Regions from separate parts of the Homo sapiens genome. Here region 1 is linked to region 2. The links come from fine-mapping of genetic effects on gene expression. A gene starts in region 2. The other region holds a variant in brackets. All regions are shown on one strand. Distances are between the middles of the regions. Region 1 overlaps BLOC1S2 (biogenesis of lysosomal organelles complex 1 subunit 2). Region 2 holds the start of ERLIN1 (ER lipid raft associated 1).

Region 1 (10,647 bases), 92 kb before region 2:
TTATTATATAATTAATTTTAAGCAAATTGTTATTTTCCTGTGATTGTTATTCTTACTCGCACAAATGCTTTATTGAATTTAAGAGTAAATTGATATTTCCTCTTAAACTATGCTAGTTTCTAGCATAAGCCTGGGAATGCCCATAGGTATGTGCTACCCATGTAAACATCAGTTATGTGTTACAGCTGAGAAACAGTTGAGAACTGATAGTTAAGGGGGTCTGATAAGAAAGCATCTGGCATAGACATCTAAGAAGAGCAGTTAGAGATTAGAAAATCATCGGTGTAGTACAATGCCATAGCAGCCAAAGGAAATGAGCATTTCCCAAAGAGAAGGAGATCAGTAGTGTCCAAGACAATGGAGAGGTTTAGGAGGATAAGAACTGAGCAAATGCCATGGATTTGGTGGTTAGCAGAGCAGGATGACTTTGGAGCATGTAATCTCTGGATGGTAGGGCCAAAAACCAGACTACAAGGGTATATGCAAGTAAATGGTAAGGAAGAGGATGTAGTGAGTGTCAGCTACTTTTTCAAATTGTTTAGCAGTGAAGCTCCTTTGCTTTACTGAGCAAATGATATAGATGTAGCAGAATAGAGAGAGTGCTTTTGAGCTGGAAGAAATCTGAATATATTGATACATAGAGAGGAAGGTGCCAGGAGAGAGGGAGAATTTGGAAATGCAAGTGAAAGGAGATGATTGAAGAGAGGCCCTGAAGAAGTAGAAGTGTTTGGGTTCAAGGCCACAAGAGGAGGGGGTTGTCTTGGCAAGAATAGGAACACTTCTGCCTCTTGGGAAGATATTAAGATCCAGAGAAGTTTAGAAGTGAGGCAGAGAGAAAAACAAAAAACAAAAGAAGTAAGGCAGAGAGGTTGAAGCAGCTTATGTTAATGGACTTGGCCTTTAGGAAAATTGGAGTAGAGACCATTTGCTTTGAATGGGGATAGGGAAAGAACTGAGGATATGAGAAGCAGACAGATGGTTTGGAAATGTCACTGCATAAAATGCAATATAGAATTATACATGGTAATAAACGAGTTACTAAGAAGTAGTGAGGTCCTAGCTGATAGTGTGTGTGTGTGTGTGTGTGTGTGTGTGTGTGTATGTGTATATATATATATTTTTTTTTTTTGAGATGGAGTCTCACTCTGTCACCCAGGCTGGAATGCAGTGGCACAATCTCGGCTCACTGCAACCTCCGCCTCCTGGATTCAAGCAATTCTCTGCCTCAGCCTCCCGAGTAGCTGAGATTACAGGTGCCTGCCACCACGCCCGCTAATTGTTTTGTATTTTTAGTAGAGATGGGGTTTCACTATCTTGGCCAGGTTGGTCTTGAACTCCTGACCTCGTGATCACCCGCCTCGGCTTCCCAAAGTGCTGGGATTACACGCATGAGCCACCGCGCCCAGCCTGATAGTATATATATTATATGTATATAAGTTAAATGTTTTCATGCTGTAGAAGTACCAAGACTATTTTACCTCCCTTTTCTTAGGACATGAGTTTATCATTTCCCTTTGTAACCATGATCCTGAACCTTCTGGATCTTGTTTGGTTTAAATAGTTTTCTGATTGTTGCCTGAATTTCTACCTAGACTTTCAGAGTACATAGGCTGAGTTATAAATGTCATAGATCAAAAGTGGCCCACTCCTTTGACACTTCCTTGGTCCTGCCTTGAACTACCACTTAGCTTATACTCCCACATTCTAATGATTTAAGACAAATCTTAAAGACATTACATCTTCTGTTTAATTTTCAAGCCACCAGTGAAGACTATAAGCTCCTGGAAAATATGAATAAACTCACCAGCTTGAAGTATCTTGAAATGAAAGATATTGCTATAAACATTAGTAGGAACTTAAAGGACTTAAACCAGAAATGTAAGTAATAATATTTGTAATTAAACATGTTTGTATTTAATGTTCTTTTGTGCTTGGGGCCATGGAGAAGAGGAGGGAACATGACATCCTTGTCTTGTGGGAGCTTGTTTTCTAAAAATGAATTCCAAATTTAAGATGAATTTCTTCCATTCTGAGGATTAGCATGTTTTGTTTGTATGGGTATTTTTGCTTCTAAATCTTGATTTTATCAGTTTATTCCTGGAATGGGAGGGGGCAAAGGAAGGGTGGCCAGATTCTAATGAATTGATTTACAAATCCATAAAGGATTACTCTATAAGCAGAAAACCAAAAACTCTATAATGGAAAACACTAATTTAGAGTAGTCGAATATATTTTTTCCATTGACTTATTATTTTTGTGTTTCTTTTCTCTAGGGTGCTCTTTCTTGGTATGGGAGTACCCAAGAAACAGAATCAGTAATGGAAAGATTGCTCAAGGAGCAAGAAATTAAAAAGAATGGAAAATTAGTAGATGAGAGACACTAAGTCTGGGCCACAGTCGTGCCTGATCAACTAGCTACTGTCTTCTAAAGCATCTGCCCTGCTAGTGCTCAGAATCATGTCACGCCACCTAATCTGTCTTAGCATAGCTGGAGAGACACTAGCATTATTACTTTTCCACTCTTTTCCTATATTCTTTGTTAATAAAGCCATATAAACATGAAGTTTTTCTTTGTTTTTAAAGATGCTGGACTGCAGCCTTATCTGGATCAGATCAATGTCATTGAAGAGCAGGTAGCAGCTCTTGAGCAGGCAGCTTACAAGTTGGATGCATATTCAAAAAAACTGGGTAACCGTTTTTACTTCTGTTTTGATGTAATAAAGACTGCTTCTTGCCAGCATATTCTTAGTAAACATAATAGTTAACATTTATGGTGTGCCTACAGTGATCTATTAATCTTCACAAAACCTTAGTAATTTATTATTATATTAATAAAAATAACATTTCCTGATTACTTAATGATATATCAGGCACTGTTCTTAGTGCTTTACATGTATTATGTTTGGTTTTTGTTTTTGGTTTGTTTTTTTTGAGACAAGTTTCACTCTTGTTGCCCAAGCTGGAGTGCAATGGTGCGATCTCGGCTCACCGCAACCTCCGCCTCCTGGGTCTGGGTTCAAGCGATTCTCCTGCCTCAGCCCCCCGAGTAGCTGGGATTACAGGCGCGCCACCACGCCTGGCTAATTTTGTATTTTTAGTAGAGACAGGGTCTCTCATGTTGGTCAGGCTGGTCTCGATCTCCCAACCTCAAGTGATCTGCCCACCTCGGCCTGGCCTGTATTATGTTTTTTATCTTCCCAATAATCTGTGAGGTAAGTACATGATTTTTTTTTGTACTTTTAGTAGAGACGAGGTTTCACCATGTTGGCCAGGCTGGTCTTGAACTCCTGACCTCGTGATCCGCCCGCCTCAGCCTCCCAAAGTGCTGGGATTATAGGTGTGAGCCACCACATCTGGTTCAAGTACATGATTTTTATCCTCATTTTGTAGGCAAGGAAACTGGTTTAAGGGGATAAGTAAGTTGCTTAAGGACACTAAGCCAGTACAGGGAAGAGCCATATTTCTAAGCAGGTCTGTTTGCTTACAAAGCTCAAGTTCTTATTTGTAGTTGAGAAAGCAGAAGCACCTTTAATAATGTAGATAAATATGTCTTAAATGAATAGTCAGTTGAGGATTTTCTTGAAAGATCACTTTTCCTTTGAGGAAGAAACTAGTATTTTTAGTACTAGTGGTTTGCTAACTGGCTCTGGCTCTTACATACATGGTTAAAAGTAAAGAATTTAGTGGGTTTTTTGTTGTTGTTGTTTTGTTTTTTTTTTCTATAAGAGATGAGGTCTTGCTGTGTCACCCAGGCTAGGGTGCAATGACGTGATCATAGCTCGCTGTAGCCTTGAACTCCTGGGCTCTAGTGATCCTCCTTCCTCAGCCTCCTGAGTACCTGGGACTACAGGTGTGCACCATCACATCCAGCTACTTTAAAAAAATTGTTTTTGAAACAAGGCCTTGCTGTGTTGCCCAGGCTGGTCT[C/T]GAACTCATGGCCTTAAGCAATCCTCCCACCTCAGCCTCTCAAGTAGCTGGAATCACAGGCCTTTTTTTTTTTTTATTGATCATTCTTGGGTGTTTCTCACAGAGGGGGATTTGGCAGGGTCATAGGACACTAGTGGAGGGAAGGTCAGCAGACAAACAAGTGAACAAAGGTCTCTGGTTTTCCTAGGCAGAGTGTTTGTGTCCCTGGGTACTTGAGATTAGGGAGTGGTAATGACTCTTAACGAGCATGCTGCCTTCAAGCATCTGTTTAACAAAGCACATCTTGCACCGCCCTTAATCCATTTAACCCTGAGTGGACACAGCACATGTTTCAGAGAGCACAGGGTTGGGGGTAAGGTCATAGATCAACAGGATCCCAAGGCAGAAGAATTTTTCTTAGTACAGAACAAAATGAAAAGTCTCCCATGTCTACTTCTTTCTACACAGACACGGCAACCATCCGATTTCTCAATCTTTTCCCCACCTTGCCCCCTTTTCTATTCCAGAAAACCGCCATCGTCATCATGGCCCATTCTCAATGAGCTGTTGGGTACACCTCCCAGACGGGGTGGTGGCCGGGCAGAGGGGCTCCTCACTTCCCAGTAGGGGCGGCCGGGCAGAGGCGCCCCTCAGCTCCTGGACCGGGTGGCTGGCCAGGCGGGGGGCTGACCCCCCCACCTCCCTCCCGGACGGGGCGGCTGGCCGGGTAGGGGGCTGACCCCCCCACCTCCCTCCCAGACGGGGTGGCTGGCCGGGAGGGGGCGCTGACCGCCCCCCCACCTCCCTCCCGGACGGAGCGGCTGGCCCGGCGGGGGGCTGAGCCCCCCACCTCCCTCCCGGACGGGGCGGCTGGCCGGGCGGGGGGCTGATTCCCTCACCTCCCTCCCGGACAGGGCGGCTGGCCGGGCAGAGGGGCTCCTCACTTCCCAGTAGGGGCGGCCGGGCAGAGGCGCCCCTCACCTCCCGGACGGGGCGGCTGGCCAGGCGGGGGGCTGACCCCCCCACCTCCCTCCCGGACGGGGCGGCTGGCCGGGCGGGGGGCTGACTCCCCCACCTCCCTCCCGGACGGGGCGGCTGGCCGGGCAGAGGGGCTCCTCACTTCCCAGTAGGGGCGGCCAGGCAGAGGCGCCCCTCACCTCCCGGACGGGGCGGCTGGCCGGGCGGGGGGCTGAGCCCCCCACCTCCCTCCCGGACGGGGCGGCTGGCCGGGCGGGGGGGCTGAGCCCCCCACCTCCCTCCTGGACGGGGTGGCTGGCTGGGCAGGGGGGCTGACCCCCTCCCACCTCCCTCCCGGACGGAGCGGCTGGCCGGGCGGGGGGCTGACCCCCCCACCTCCCTCCCGGACGGGACAGCTGGCCAGGCGGGGGGCTGACCCCCCCACCTCCCTCCCGGACGGGACGGCTGGCCGGGCGGGGGGCTGACCCCCCCACCTCCCTCCCGGACGGGGTGGCTGGCTGGGCAGAGGGGCTCCTCACTTCCCAGTAGGGGCGGCCGGGCAGAGGCGCCCCTCACCTCCCGGACGGGGCGGCTGGCCGGGCGGGGGGCTGACCCCCACCTCCCTCCCGGCCGGGGTGGCTGCCGGGCGGAGACGCTCCTCACTTCCCAGACGGGGTGGCAGCCAGGCGGAGGGGCTCCTCACTTCTCAGACGGGGCGGTTACCAGGCGGAGGGTCTCCTCACTTCTCAGACGGGGCGGCCGGGCAGAGACGCTCCTCACCTCCCAGATGGGGCGGCGGGGCACAGGCGCTCCCCACATCTCAGACGGTGGGCTGCCGGGCAGAGACGCTCCTCACTTCCTAGATGGGATGGCGGCCGGGAGGAGGCGCTCCTCACTTCCCAGGTGGGATGGCGGCCGGGCAGAGACGCTCCTCACTTTCCAGACTGGGCAGCCAGGCAGAGGGGCTCCTCACATCCCAGACGATGGGCAGCCAGGCAGAGACACTCCTCACTTCCCAGACGGGGTGGCGGCCAGGCAGAGGCTGCAATCTCCGCACTTTGGGGGGGCCAAGGCAGGCGGCTGGGAGGTGGAGGCCATAGCGAGCCGAGATCACGCCACTGCACTCCAGCCTGGGCACCATTGAGCACTGAGTGAATGAGACTCCGTCTGCAATCCCGGCACCTCGGGAGGCCGAGGCTGGCGGATCACTCGCGGCTAGGAGCTGGAGACCAGTCCGGCCAACACAGCGAAACCCCGTCCCCACCAAAAAAACACGAAAACCAGTCAGGCGTGGCGGCGCGCGCCTGCAATCGCAGGCACTCGGCAGGCTGAGGCAGGAGAATCAGGCAGGGAGGCTGCAGCGAGCCGAGATGGCAGCAGTACAGTCCAGCTTTGGCCCGGCTTGAGAGGGAGACCGTGGAAAGGAGAGGGAGAGGGAGACGGGAGAGGGAGAGGGAGAGGGAGACGGGAGAGGGAGAGGGAGACGGGAGAGGGAGAGGGAGACGGGAGAGGGAGAGGGAGACGGGAGAGGGAGAGGGAGACGGGAGAGGGAGAGGGAGACGGGAGAGGGAGACGGGAGAGGGAGACGGGAGAGGGAGACGGGAGAGGGAGACGGGAGAGAGAGAGGGAGACGGGAGAGGGAGATGGAGAGGGAGACGGGCCTGAGTTTGTTTTTGTCCTTATAACATTTACAGATTATTTTATTTTCATCATTTAACAAGGGCTGACTACTTCAAGAAAGTAGTTTGTAGTAGGCTGGGATTTGATATGGGTGGCGATTAACAATCAGTTTTATTTTCTACAGTTACATTTAGCCAGTGATTACCGTGAACCTTACCGCGTAGAAGGCAGGGGTAACCTTACCATGTAGAAAGTATCTTGGTTCACAGTAACCATTTGTGACAGAGTCCCTTTTTCTGTTAAAATTGTGAAACCAGGTGCTTTCATGGTTTTAATAGAAAAACGGAATGTCAGAGTAAGAGGCTTATTTGATGGCCTTTTAAATATCTGTATCTTTCAAAATTGCTTTCCTGGAGTAAGGTGTAAGGATAAGAACATACAGGAGGAAACATACATTTATACTTCCTGAGGGTTCCAGTCTGGTTCCAGAGGGCACCTGGGACAGTGCTGAGAGAGGCAGTTTTTTAGTAAGGCTCCCGATAGGTCAAGTGACAGATGTGCCCCATCCTGGTGGAGCTGTCTAAGTAGGTGCTGTTGACAGGGTGAGGACTTCGTGAACCTGTGTTAGGCTCTCAGTTCTGAGTGTCTGTGCTTGAATTCTTATTCCAAGTTTTACAGATCAGTGATCCGTATATTTGGACAGATGATGAGATTGAAGCTAATAGATTTTTAGTAATATTATACATATTTTTTAAACTTGACTGGAAATGCTAACTAAAAACTGTCTTTGTAAGAGCCAGTTTTAAAAGATGTAACTCTCCCTCATCCCTCACAGAAGCCAAGTACAAGAAGCTGGAGAAGCGATGAGAAACTTATTTCTATGGGACAGAGTCTTTTTTTTTTAATGTGGAAGAATGTCTTATAAAACCTGAATCCTGAGGCTGATGAATTGTGAAAATTCCTCAAAAGGAAATTATGCTGGTCATCACAGGAACATCTCAACGTTCGAGTAAACTGGAGGACTGTGGCTATTCCTGAACCTTCTTTGAGACAGAATCCCTCAGAATCTCACACTTATAACTTCCTACCTTTTACTTGAATGCTTTGCCATATTCAGGACAGAGACTCTCACAAAGTTCAGAAAACAGCTGGACTTACCAGTAAAATCAAATGAGAGGACCTATTTTCTCTGGTAGTGGTTGATTACTACATTATTTTCTTAAGTGGCTGGTTTTTTAGTTACTATGTAAATGGTCGTTTTTCTGTTAATGATGCTAATGTGTTGTAAACAAGATTCTAAATTTAAAAAGGAAAACAAAACAAACTTGTTCTTTGCAGCTTATCACCTTGTGAATGTCGGTAACTTACTTTTCCATAATATTGCAAATAACATAAAATCTTAAAATAATTCCAAGCTGAGTCTTCTAGATTGAGCAGAAATGGTGAAAGGAGTATTGATAACTTGGCGTATGTGATGGGCCCCTCTTGTTTATTTTCTATGTGAGTCACATTGACATGCGATCAGTTTGGGAAATGTGATGAAAACAAAGACTAGATGGGTATGTGTGTTTATGTGTTGGGTAGGGAGGTGACGATTGCCACTCATAAAATAAAGGATTTTATAAAATACCTTCCTACTGTGTATGTAGGATTTGGGGGGATCTTAGGGACCTAATCGACTTCTTTGCACACTAAAAACATCAGACAATGGGACATACTGACTGACCAGTCTAGGTTGAAAGATAGGCAGCCTTACCCAGAACACAACATTAGCAGCTGGGAAGGTGTCTGAGGTCCCCAATTACATATCCCAAAGAGTTTCTTACTTCTGTTTCTGTCATTTCCCCTCTGTTCCAGACAGTCATCATTTATCCTCTGTTCTTCCTGGACTGTTGCTGTGGTCTCTTCTCATCTTAACTGTCCCTTCCAACCACCCTCCACACTGCTGCCAGAGCAATCTTAAAAATGTAAACTGGCCCTATTACTCCTGCTTAGAACCCTGTAGTGACTTATCATGGCCTCTGAAAAATCTAGACTTTCATTATGCATACAAGTCCCTTGTGTTTTTTTGTTTGTTTATAGACAGGGTCTCTATTGTCACCCAGGCTGGAGTGTGGTGGTGTGATAATAGCTCACCTTGACCTCCTAGGCTCAACTGATCTTCCCACCTCAGCCTCCTGAATAGCTGGGACTACCAGCACGCTCCACCATGCCTTGCTAATTATTTTTTATACAGATGGAGTCTCACTATGTTGTCCAGGCTGGTCTTGAACTGGCCTCAAGTGATTCTCTTACCACAGCCTGCCAGAGTGCTGAGATTGTAGGCATGAACCACCGTGCCTAACATAAGGCCCCTATTTAAACATTTTTCTTAAATAAAAAACAAAAGAATTAAACTGTAACTCTACTATCTTAACATAGAATCAGTCTTACCCCTTCTTCCAACCCTTTTCCTTTTCCGTGCATGTATTGATCTATTTTTTTTTTTTTTTTGAGATGAAGTCTTGCTCTGTCGCCTGGGCTGGAGTGCAGTGGTGCGATCTTAGCTCACTGCAACCTCTGTTTCCTGGGTTCAAGCGATTCTCCTGCCTCAGCCTCCCGAGTAGTTGAGATTTACAGGTGCCCACCACCATGCCAGGCTAATTTTTGTATTTTTAGTAGAGACGGGGTTTCACCATGTTGGCCAGGCTGGTCTCGAACTCCTGACCCCAAATGATCCACCCACCTCGGCCTCCCAAAGTGCTGGGATTACAGGTGTGAGCCACCGCACCCAGCCATGTTGATCTATTTTTAAAAAGTTTTTATTTCCTGTTACACTGTGTTCAGCTATCTTCAGCCACCTTAAATTCCCATGGATGAGTTTTCATAAACTTTTTGAAAATAGATTTAGATTTACGGGAAAGTTGCAAAGATAATACAGAATTTAATGGATGAGTTTTTTTATTGATGTGTAATAGATGTATGTATTTTCAGAGTACAAGTGATAATTTAATACATGTATATAATGTGTAAATATTAAATCAAGAGTTATTGGGATGTCCTTCACCTTAATATTTATCTTGTCTTTATGCTAGGAACATTATTTGAATTATTCTCTTTTACCTATTTTGAAATGTACAATAGATTAACATTAGCTATAGTTACTCTACTGATCTATCATAGGTCTTATTTCTTCTGTATTTGTGTCCACTAATCAAACTCTTCATCCTCACGTCCCCACCACCTTTCCTGGCCTCTGGTAACCACCAATCTACCTCCATCTCCATGAGATCCACTTTTTTAGCTCCCACATGTGAGTGAGAACATGTAATATTTGTCTTTTCTGTGCTTGGCTTAGTTCAGTTAACACAATCACCTCCAGTTTCATCCATGTTGCTGAGAATGACAGAATTTCATTCCTTTTATGGCTGAACAATATTCCATTGTGTATATATACCACATTTTCTTTACCCATTCATCCATTGATGGACACTTAGGTTGATTCCATATTTTAGCTATTGTGAATAGTGCTGCAATAAACATGAGAGTGCATATATCTCTTTGATATATTGATTTCCTTTCTTTTGGATACATACCCAGTAGTGGAATTTGCTGGATCATATTGTAGTTCTATTTTTAGTTTTTGGAGGAAACTATACAATTTTCCATAGTGGCTGTACTAATTTACATTCCCACCAACTGTGTACAAGAGTTCCTCTTTCTCTGCATCCTTGCCAGCATCTGTTAATTCCTGTCGTCTTGATAGGAAATTTTAAGTGGGATGAGGTGATATCTTGTTGTGGCTTTGATTTGCATTTCTCTGATGATTGGTGATGTTGAGCATTTTTTCTTATAGCTGTTGGCCATTTGTATGTCTTGAGAAATGTCTATTTTGATCTTTTGCTCCCCCCGCTTTGTTTTTTTAAGAGATGAGTTCTCATTATGTTGCCCATGCTGGAATCAAACTGGGCTCAAACAGTCCTCCTGGGACTGGGCATAGTGGCTGAGGCCTGTAATCCCAGCACTTTGGGAGGCTGAGTAGGTGGACCATCTGAGGTCAGGAGTTCAAGGCCAGCCTGGCCAACATAGTGAAACCCTATCTCTACTAAAACTACAAAAAATTAGCCAGGCATGGTGGTGAGCACCTGTAATCCCAGCTACTTGGGAGGCTGAGGCAGGAGAATC
Region 2 (11,040 bases):
ATCTTGCTAACCTAGAAGACTAGAAAGTAGAGGAAATTCATATGCCCTTTTCCTGAGTTTGAAAAGGCTTTGTTCTTTCATCTCACAGGGAGACTTCAGCACAAATGATAGAAGAAAATTTGAACTGCCTTGGCCATTTAAGCACTATTATTCATGAGGCAAATGAGGAACAGGGCAATAGTATGATGGTAAGTTTTGTGTGGATATGGGTGCCTGCTTTGGCTATGTTGGGTGCAAAAGGTTTAACTTTCCATGCTAGCCTTATCTGGCATTTGGGATGCATATGGGAAATAGAAGAACTCAAGAGGAAAGAGCATTTGGGGAATATCCTCAACCTTAAATCCTTATCTGCCGTTACTCAGGGATATACTAGGATTATGTCATCAATTATCTTCAATAATAGCATTTTTGGTCAAATTAAATGAGTGGTAAGCTTCTTCACAATGTGACCATTGAAATTGAATGGTTTGTTCTGTACCTTTTTGCTTCAGCAATCAATTTTCTCCATTAAGATGGGACTTGTACTTTAATTCAGATATGGTACCTCCCGAATAGAAAATAAATTATGTTAATATAGTTGTAATAATAAGTGTGTGTTAAGATTTGGTTACTATAAACTACTGATTTGTTAAAACTTGAGGAAATTACCATAAAATGTCTACTGAATCAATTTTTCCTGCATTTAGTCTTAATGTCAATTCTGTACATTTCCTCTTTCATTAAGAAAAATAGCAGTGGCCAGGCATGGTGGCTCACGCCTGTAATCCTAGCACTTTGGGAGGCCAAGGCAGGTGGATTGCTTGAGCCCAGGAGTTTGAGACTAGCCTGGCCAACATGGGAAACCCTGTCTTTATAAAAAATATAAAAATTGGCCAGGTGTGGTGGCACACACCTGTGGTCCCAGCTACTTGGGAGGCTGAGGCAGGAAGATCGCTTGAGTTCAAGAGTTTCAGGCTGCAGTGAGCCGTAATCCTGCCATTGCACTCCAGCCTGTGACAGAGTGAGACTTTGTCTCGGGGAAAAAAAAAAAAAAAAAGGATAATGGTGGCCAGCCATATGACATGTACCTGTAGTCCGAGTTACTAGGGAGGCTGAGGCAGAAGGATTGCATGAGCCCAGGAGTTCAAGGCTGCAGTGCATTATGATTGGACTTGTGAATAGCCACTGTACTCCAGCTTGGCAACATAGCAAGATCCTGCTCTCTTAAGAAAAAAAAAAAAAAGAAAAGAAAAGGAAAGAATAATTGTTTACTTCAAATATTTATGAAAAAAACTCTGAAATTTTTTTAAATCAGGAAATAAGGTAAATGAAATGATTTTTCAACTTTTGATTATGAAATGTCCAAACAGAAAACTTGCAAAAATGAACACCCATATACTTATAACTTATAGTCAACATCTAATTGTAACTTTTTCATGCCTGGTTTTAGAATCTTGATTGGAGTTGGTTAACAGAATGAGTTGTCACTTGTTCACTGTCCCCAAACCTATGGAAGTTGTTGCTATACATGTTGGAAATGTGTTTTTCCCCCATGAAACCATTCTTCAGACATCAGTCAATGGAAGAAATGGCTATGAACAGAAACTACATTTCTACTATGATCAGAAGAACATGATTTTACAAGTATAACAGTTTTGAGTAATTCAAGCCTCTAAACAGACAGGAATTTAGAAAAAGTCAATGTACTTGTTTGAATATTTGTTTTAATACCACAGCTATTTAGAAGCATCATCACGACACATTTGCCTTCAGTCTTGGTAAAACATTACTTATTTAACTGATTAAAAATACCTTCTATGTATTAGTGTCAACTTTTAACTTTTGGGCGTAAGACCAAATGTAGTTTTGTATACAGAGAAGAAAACCTCAAGTAATAGGCATTTTAAGTAAAAGTCTACCTGTGTTTTTTTCTAAAAAGGCTGCTCACAAGTTCTATTTCTTGAAGAATAAATTCTACCTCCTTGTGTTGCACTGAACAGGTTCTCTTCCTGGCATCATAAGGAGTTGGTGTAATCATTTTAAATTCCACTGAAAATTTAACAGTATCCCCTTCTCATCGAAGGGATTGTGTATCTGTGCTTCTAATATTAGTTGGCTTTCATAAATCATGTTGTTGTGTGTATATGTATTTAAGATGTACATTTAATAATATCAAAGAGAAGATGCCTGTTAATTTATAATGTATTTGAAAATTACATGTTTTTTCATTTGTAAAAATGAGTCATTTGTTTAAACAATCTTTCATGTCTTGTCATACAAATTTATAAAGGTCTGCACTCCTTTATCTGTAATTGTAATTCCAAAATCCAAAAAGCTCTGAAAACAAGGTTTCCATAAGCTTGGTGACAAAATTCATTTGCTTGCAATCTAATCTGAACTGACCTTGAATCTTTTTATCCCATTTAGTGTGAATATTCCTTTATTTTGCTGCTTGATGATGAGAGGGAGGGCTGCTGCCACAGACTGTGGTGAGGGCTGGTTAATGTAGTATGGTATATGCACAAAACTACTTTTCTAAAATCTAAAATTTCATAATTCTGAAACAACTTGCCCCAAGGGTTTCAGAGAAAGGACTGTGGACCTCTATCATCTGCTAAGTAATTTAGAAGATATTATTTGTCTTAAAAAATGTGAAATGCTTTTATATTCTAATAGTTTTTCACTTTGTGTATTAAATGGTTTTTAAATTACTTTCTTGATCTCTATTCATTATAAAAATCAGATTATAATAAAACAGTTGAATATGGCTTAGGAAAATATGAAGGTTCCATGAAGTGGAATTAAGAGCATAGAATAACTGTACTTTCCTTAGGAATAATAGGACTTATGGTAAAGGTAGTATTGGGCAACTTCTTTAAGAGTGTTTTCCTCTGAGATGTCCTATCACCACTATCTACATCTAAAAAACATGCTCGATTCTTGCCCTATAAACTGATGTCACAGCCCCACCATCCCCATTTTTGCTAGTGGTATCATTTTCCTAGTCAACCAAATTTTTTAGTCATCACATATCACTGTTCGTCATCTATTATAATAGGCAGTCTCTCTCTTGTTTCCCTGGTTTTAGAAGATTTTAGTAATAAACATTTATTGGGTACCTGTTACTTGGAGGGTATTAAGCTAGATGGCAAGATCTGAAACAACATAGGCAGTATAGTAAAAGTGCTTATCTGGGAGTCTGAACATTACAAGCCATCCAAGCATTGCAATTATTGTTAAGGATTATTTTCAATGGTCATGCATTTTCTAATATTTTAATAATTGGTTAAAGATTTGTTATAGCGTGGGGGCCGCTGCTGGTGTGTGGCTGGGGTTATGTCAGGGCAGCCTGATCTATATAATTTGGGCAGATGGTGTGAGTCAGAACAGACTATTATAGTGGGATCCCCAAACTTGCTTTTGATGCATGAGTTGGACCACTATTTTTTGGTGGGTAACAACTTTTCAGAGGGGAATGGCAGTTGTGAATTGTATACATTTCATTCTTTAAGCAATATTATGAAAAACTTCAGAGAATGTCTACAGAAAACAGGGTATGGAGCAAGTTATTTTCCATTCTTTTTGCTTTTTGGAAGTTAAAATAGCTAAGCTCTGCAAATATCATTTATTTGGAACAGATAAGGTCCCAGACATTCCTAGATAATAAAAATCAAATGAATGATACAGGTAAGTGTATTTATTGAAGGGTGTGGGTAGAGTGGTCTGGGAAGTCTTGCTTTAATGAAGACGGATTGATTCTATTTACCTCTTCTTACTTCCACTACTAAGTAACCCTGGGCCTGCAGTTTCCTAACCACTTGACTTCCTTGCCAACAGTCTGTCTCCACTTTCAGCCGTTTTATAGATTCATTGGCCCTAAAGCACTGCTTTCCCATACTTCCCTACCCAAGAGGGCAGGGGTCCCCAAGCCCTGGGCCGCGGACCGGAACCAGACAGTGGCCTGTTAGGAACCAAGCCGGATAGCAGGAGGTGAGCGGCGGGCGAGTGAGCATTATCGCCTTGAGCTCTGCCTGCTGTCAGATTAGCGAGTGGCATCAGATTCTCATAGGCACGCGAACCCTATTGTGAACTGCACATGTGAGGTTTGCCGGCTCCCTGTGAGAATCTAATGCCTGATGATCTGAAGTGGAACAGTTTCATCCCCAACCCACACACACCCCCACCCCGTCCGCTGGGTTAGAGGACTTTACAACCCTAGTCCACCTTGTCCAGTTATAGTTCCACCTCTAGCCTTTCAAGGCTTAAACCATTAATGTCCTTAATTTCTCTTGTATTCATCTATCTCCCAACTATACCTTTTTCCTTCCCTTTTTTATTTTTGGCAATATGTGCCCATGGTTTTTTAATTTAAAACGAACAGAATATGTAGTGACGCCTACCATAGCACTCCTTCCCATCACACAAGCCTTCAAGGAAACTGAAGTACTTACTTTGGTCTCCCTGGAGGATTCCCTCCGCCTCCCGCCCCATGTGCTTAGCAATTCTGTTCCTGTAGTCTGGATGGCCTTCATAAAGCCCTCACTGGACCAGCATTCTGGCACATAATAGGAACACTTAAAAAACGAGAGAATGATGCCGTTATATCTAATATCTTCCTCTTCTGAACTTTCACAGCACTTTATTTGCAACAAGTTTAGTTGCTCCTGAAGGGCAGGATCTCTGCCGGAAGCAAGTGCGTGCCACACAGTGGGGCTCCGCATACACTGCAAAAGGACAAATAAACCGAACAGCTACCGTTTGAGAGTGAGCGAGTGGGTTCTCTGCACAAGAACAAACCAACCAGTCCCTTGTCCGAAAGGGCGTCTCCTTTTCTCTGCTTCGCTGCTCACTCCAGACTGCGGGCTGTCCTCTTCCGAAGCAGTTAACCAGCAGTGTACAGAAAGCGACTTGCCTCCAAAGGAGCCTGCGCGGCCCGCGGCTAGGAGAATTTTGTCCCATGCGCTCCCCGTCTCACTAGCCGCGGGCCGGGGCTACGCCGTGTGCGTCCCCGCGCAGCCGCAGTGCTGGGCGAGTGGGCGGGGCCGGCTGTTGGCGGCGGTTGGCTCGGCGCGGGAGTCGGCTGCACGTGCGGGCGGGGGCGATGCGTCACTGATCGGTGAGGCGCGGCCGAGGGGTCGGCTTTCCTCGCGAGCCTGCGGCTGGGCTTCTTCTCAGTTAGTGCCTTCCACCCGGGAGCGACCCTTGGGAGAGGGAGTTTCAGGAAGCTCACCGAGCAGGGGCGGCCCACTGGCCTCCGGGGGCGGAGGAGTTGGCAAGGGGTCAGCGGGCTCAGCCAGAAGGGAAGAATGAGGGGACAGGGGTACTGGACTCCCCGGCTCAGCCTGCGAGAGAGCGCCAAGTTTCCGGAGGGAGAGGGTAGAAACTGGAGGGGGTGGACCTGTCACTCACGGGACTGAGGGTCCTTTTCTCCCGCTCCCAGGAGGAACGAGAATGAATATGACTCAAGCCCGGGTTCTGGTGGCTGCAGTGGTGGGGTTGGTGGCTGTCCTGCTCTACGCCTCCATCCACAAGATTGAGGAGGGCCATCTGGCTGTGTACTACAGGTGAGCGGCATGTGCAGTCAGTTAGGGCTCTAGAGCAGATTAAAAGGGTACTCCAGAGTGGAGTCTGGGAAGTTGTTCCCTCTGCAACGTTCGGGGGCGCATGTCCCATCTCTAGGGAGAGCACGGGGGTCGAAGCGGGCTTTTGCGGAGCACCCTCCAGATGTTGGACAGTTTTAGTGCTATGTTCGTTTTGTTGCAGAGATTAAGTCTCCCTACGGTTATTCCTATACACAGCAAACTCAATTATTTGTAGAAAAATGAAGAAGGAAGAAAGGAAGTAGTCACTCTACCTCTAACTGAAGAGATGGATAAATTATAGTTCGTTCAACTGTACAGGCTTTAGTTTGCCGCTGTAGATGCTGTATGTTTATGGTTGTTTCTTAGACTTTTTCATTTAAAAGCTTCCAGTGTCTGGTTACGTCTTGTAACACCATGATGACTGTGATGGTGCTTATGTCCCTGGACCTCCAGGGACATAAGCACAACACTGATGGGCCATGCTCCTCCCTCCTTACTGTTGCTGTTCAAGTTGGGGACAGGAGTGGTGTGGGAGCTGTTGCTCTCTTGTTGAGCTCGCTTAGCTTTTCCTTCAGCCTAATTACCACAAGTTCCTTTTGATACAGACTAGTAAGAGAGGCCAGTTTGTGGAGAAATTGGGATAATGGTGTATTCAAAAAGAGCGTCAACTTTTTGCTTGTTTCCACTATCCCTCAAAACTGATATTTCTACTTTCAAATCCATCCTGAATCCTAGAAAAAGAGCAATTTTAATGGTATATCTTAGCAGATGGAGCTCTACATAAGAAATTACAGATTAGTCCAGATTTCCTTCCAGTTTAAAAGCATTGTCTTTCTGACAGTAAAACCAGAGAAAGGACATTTCAAGGAATGACTCAAAGAATTAGTAATGAACCTCAAACAGTTCATCTTTCCTTGTTATTATGACCTTGCAAATGTGTTTATATTTTCAAGACCGGTAGCTAAGTTCTATGAATTTACAAGGTGCAAAATAGGACTTTGTTTTCTTTGCTCCCCAAATGCCTCCTTTTTATAATTTCCAGGGCTTGCTTTCATAGTTTTCACATTCCAGGATTTGGTTAACAAGCCCTTATGCTATTTATTTGTATAGTCTTGTCACCCTTCATCTTTTCATGCTAATTTTTTGTTTTTATATAGAAATTTTATGTTCCCAGTATTTTAATTACCTTGTAGATAGATCGAAAGAATTATAAGCCTCAGAAATTTTCTCTTTACTTCAAAGTTTGCATTGTCTTTTTTTCAACCTGGTGATTAAATGTATTATATATTTTGATTTGGCTCTTGTTATGTACTATTAATGTACCTCTACTGAAAGCCATTAGAATTTTTTAAACAAATATTTCTCAGAAGGTTAAAGACCGAGGAGAATCCTTTGAACCTTAGAGCAGTGCTGGAGACCCAGAGGTACGGTTGGTTGAGCTTATGAAACAAGGTGTAACATTGGCAGTTTAATTTGATCTTTTTCCCTTTTTAGGTGTGGAGGTATTTTAAGCAGTTGTTCATTATGAGCAATTCATATTAGTGAGGCTTTAGTAGGTCAGCAGCATGAGCAAGAGTGAGTATTTATTATAGCATTTTAGATTTGGAAAGATAATTTTTCTTTTTATAATTTTGTCAAATTGAAACATCTTTTTGCAGGGGAGGAGCTTTACTAACTAGCCCCAGTGGACCAGGCTATCATATCATGTTGCCTTTCATTACTACGTTCAGATCTGTGCAGGTGAGTGATTCCTAGGGGAAGCCTCCATACCAGATAGACAGGCATGACAGGAGTTACCACACTTGTGGGTGGAGATAGATTTCCTTATTGCTTAAGCAGATGGTGGTATTTACTTAAATGCAGAAGTTAACGTTCAGAGTACAGTTGTTACAACACAAGTTATGATGTTAAACCACCTCACTTACTTGAAATGAATTAAAGGTATGAACCAGGAAGCTTGGAAGGACTGACTTCTACCATCTATATCGTGGTATATAGCAAATTTTCTGTTGCTGCTGTCACAATAAAAGTAAGAATTAGAAACACAACTAGACATACAAACCAGTGATTATGTGGTTTAGAACAGTGTTTAGTTTCCATAGAGGCAGGCTCCTGGGCTACTGTTAACATGGAGGATCAAAATTTTTATACACAGCCTTTCTGCCTCATGTTTTTTTGCCTGGTATATTAAGCACAATTTTATGTGGAACCTTAGTGAATGTTATATTTTGATGGCATCCCGGGATATTTGAAATAAGTGTCTAATCCTCGAAAAGTGTCTTGGCCATGGGAGACAATAAAATAAGTATCTTTCAATGTAACAAGATGACAAAACCAGGATTAGGCTGTGACCACTTTCGCAAGCCCAGTGTGATCATAAATCTTTGGATTCAGAAGTTTGTCTGCCATCTGCTGCTAATTTTTCAGGACTCAGGAAAATTCTGTGTTATTTAATCTTGTAATCTTATGTCTAGGCTTCCTGCTAAGTGAGAGTTTAATTATAAATTCTTAAATCCCCTAGGTTTTCTTCCTGTCCCCTTTTAGATGGCTTAGGGAAAGAATTGTGTCTACTGAAGTGAAATGTATTCTTCCCCTAATCAGACTGATTTCCATATGTTGTTCCATATTTATTTTACCCATTCTTTCCTTAGTTCATGCCATCACTTCTTTATCTGCCATCTCACTCTCCATTCCTTTTCTCCTGTCTAAATCTTGCCAGGCTTTTAAAGGCTCATCCCAGATTCTTCCTCTTCTGATCTATAGCTCTTAAAGTCTATATTGTAAATTTTGGCCCTTTGTCTTATTTTCTTTAATATTGTTGTCTTGCATTGTTTGCTAAGTTTTTTTATGTGTTTTCTTTCCAGAAAGGCTCCAGTTTTCTTAAAGGCAGGAGTTGTAACACATTTATATTTCTGGCTTTCTATTTATGGTGGAAGTTGTTAAATTGAGCTGATTTCTCAGGAAGCAATGTGGTGTAATGAACATGGGGACCCAGCGTTACCGCCAGTTGGTGGCATGACTTTGGAAAAATTGCTTAACTGTCATAGACTTCAGTTAGTCTTCTGTGAAAGGAGGAATTTTAATTACATAACCTCATCAACAGCCGAAACAATCTATAATAATGTTAGCAATGGCAGCATTAGACCCTTAAAAATCAAGACTCTAAGGCCCGGCGCAGTGGCTCATGCCTGTAATCCGAGCACTTTGGGAGGCTGAAGCAGGTGGATCACTTGAGCCTAGGAGTTTGAGACCAGCCTGGGCAACATGGGGAAACTCCGTCTCTTAAAAAAAAAAAAAAAAAAAAATCAAGGCTCTAACAAATAGATCTTGTTCAAAACCAGGTAGATCTGTCTCTGCCTTCATGCTTAGTATGTTAAGTCATACTGATGCAAAAATATAAATAAAGGAGATATAGATAATAGTAAACAGATTTTGGAGTTTAATTGTGTATATATATAACAAATATAGTGTGTGTATATATTTAATAATAAACTATCATAAGAGATGTAAATGAAATTAGTACAGAGACTTCAGTGTAAACTAAAATACTTCGCATCTACAAAAAAGTTTTACATGGGCTAGAGCCAGCCAGTGTGACTAAATAGGAATGTTCTTTATGTGTAAAACGGTAACATTCTAGGAAATAATTATATTAATAAAACCATATTTAAAAAGTGTTCTTGGCCGGGCGTGGCGGCTCACGCCTGTAATCCCAGCACTTTGGGAGGCCGAGGCAGGCAGATCACTTGAGGTCAGGAGTTCAAGACCAGCCTGGCCAACCTGGTCAAACGCTGTGTCTACAAAAATACAAAAATTAGCTGGGCGTGGTTGTGCGTGCCTGTAATCCCAGCTATTTGGGAGGCTGAGGCAGGAGAATCGCTTGAACCTGGGAGACCGAGGTTGCAGTGAGCCGAGATCGTACCCTTGCACTCCAGCCTGGGCAACAGAGGAAGACTCCGTCTCAAAAAAAAAAAAAAAAAAAGAGTGTTCTTAAGAGAGTAAGACATAAATTTATTTTTAGGAATTTTTGGAACATATTAGAAGACATAGTCCAGATAAACAAATGGTTTAACAAACTTGGCAATTGAAAGGAATGTATATAAATGTGAAATTCCATATATGATGTAAAAAGAAAAAGCAATGGAGAAATTATATGAAAACCTTCAGCCTTCATAAAGTAACCATAGATTCACTTTTTAAATAAATTTTCTGTCATACTGGGAAAGTAATTTTTAAGAGGACATAAAAGAAATATAAAAGTACATAAAGATAGGGTGTTAAATGGAAGATTTAACATTTGAACCCTTTCCTAGTTCTTCTGAGTTTGAAAATTGGCTAGAGAATATCCTTTTGGTTTAAATAGGAACGTGTATTTAAAGTTGGTGTGGAATATGGAAACTGAATTAATGTTATAAAGGAAATAAATATAATTTGTCTCTTCATCAATCCCCTTAACCTAGAACTGCCACCAATGTTTACTGTCATTCTAATGTCTCAACCTAAGAGTTATTTTTTATTCTTTCCCCTCCTGGAATTTTATATCAACCAAGTATCAGATACCTCCTCTATTATGTCTGGATTGACAGCTTTCATGGCCTTTACTGAATTAATCTAAATAAATTAATTATTTAGCCTCCCAGCTGGTTTTCTTACCTCCCTATAAGATGGAGAATGAGAACTACATCACATGTGAGAAAAGGAATTAAGTAAACATATTTTTGAATGGTTCGTTTTGTGACTGTATATAAGGTGAACTAGAGAGATCCCAAACTCCCCAGCCAGCATTCAGGGCCCTCTGTCTAGTATTACCATGGTCTCTTGTCAGAATTTCATCTTTCATCCAAATTGTCCCTTCTGCTCCAGGCAAGCCTATCTACTTTCGTTCGCCTATACACATGTTGTCTTCAACTGTGTGTATTTCAGTAGGATATTTATTGAGCTTAAGATGTTCCTCTGCCTCATCTGTTCTTATTTCTCCCACTCTAGACCTGGCTTATAAATCCTTCACCTCAGAGAGCTTTTCAAACTACTATTTTTTTCACTTTCTGTAATTTACCACTTAACAGTTCAGTTTATAATTTGTGTTTTTGGTTTTGTTTTGTTTTGTTTTGTACCTGTTGATGGATTGATTGCATTGTAACATTTTGTCTCCTGTGCTGGATTGTGAACTCTTTGGAAACAGGGACTGTGATTCCTTTTTCCTTTGCTTTGTGCTTGATAAGATGCAGTATGTCTAGAATGTACTCATTAGGTGCTGACCTATTTGAGGCCTTAGAGTACAGCAGGAAGTCATTCATTCTGGATCTGAACAAAGGTGTGACAAGGGCAAAGCAATTAAGTACCAGATTGTTGGTTCACCAGGAGGAAGCAGTACTGGTGGTAGCACTTCTATTAAAAAGGAAACTGAATAGGACATGTGAGAGATCACTAGGTATTAAACTAAAATGTTGACCACAGCTTTAGAGAAGAAAGGTTGCTG

The links. PIP is the estimated chance that this variant, and not a neighbour inherited with it, causes the effect.
Region 1: its variant is fine-mapped to the expression of ERLIN1 in whole blood (TOPMed, PIP 0.97).

Annotation. Positions count from the first base shown.
Region 1 is chr10:100,272,165-100,282,811 of GRCh38, reverse strand. BLOC1S2 (biogenesis of lysosomal organelles complex 1 subunit 2) reads left to right here. Exons shown (of 5, transcript NM_173809.5): 3 at 1,759-1,878; 4 at 2,584-2,688; 5 at 7,319-9,519. The coding sequence ends at 7,350. Among named protein-coding and RNA genes, the nearest start is that of BLOC1S2, 9.2 kb to the left of the region's middle. The variant C/T (reference allele first, on the strand shown) is at 3,928.
Region 2 is chr10:100,180,017-100,191,056 of GRCh38, reverse strand. ERLIN1 (ER lipid raft associated 1) reads left to right here and starts at 5,028. Exons shown (of 11, transcript NM_006459.4): 1 at 5,028-5,543; 2 at 7,220-7,301. The coding sequence starts at 5,431. CHUK (component of inhibitor of nuclear factor kappa B kinase complex) reads left to right here. Exons shown (of 21, transcript NM_001278.5): 20 at 89-188; 21 at 1,430-2,757. The coding sequence ends at 1,459. RefSeq lists an enhancer at 4,661-4,810 and a silencer at 4,981-5,130.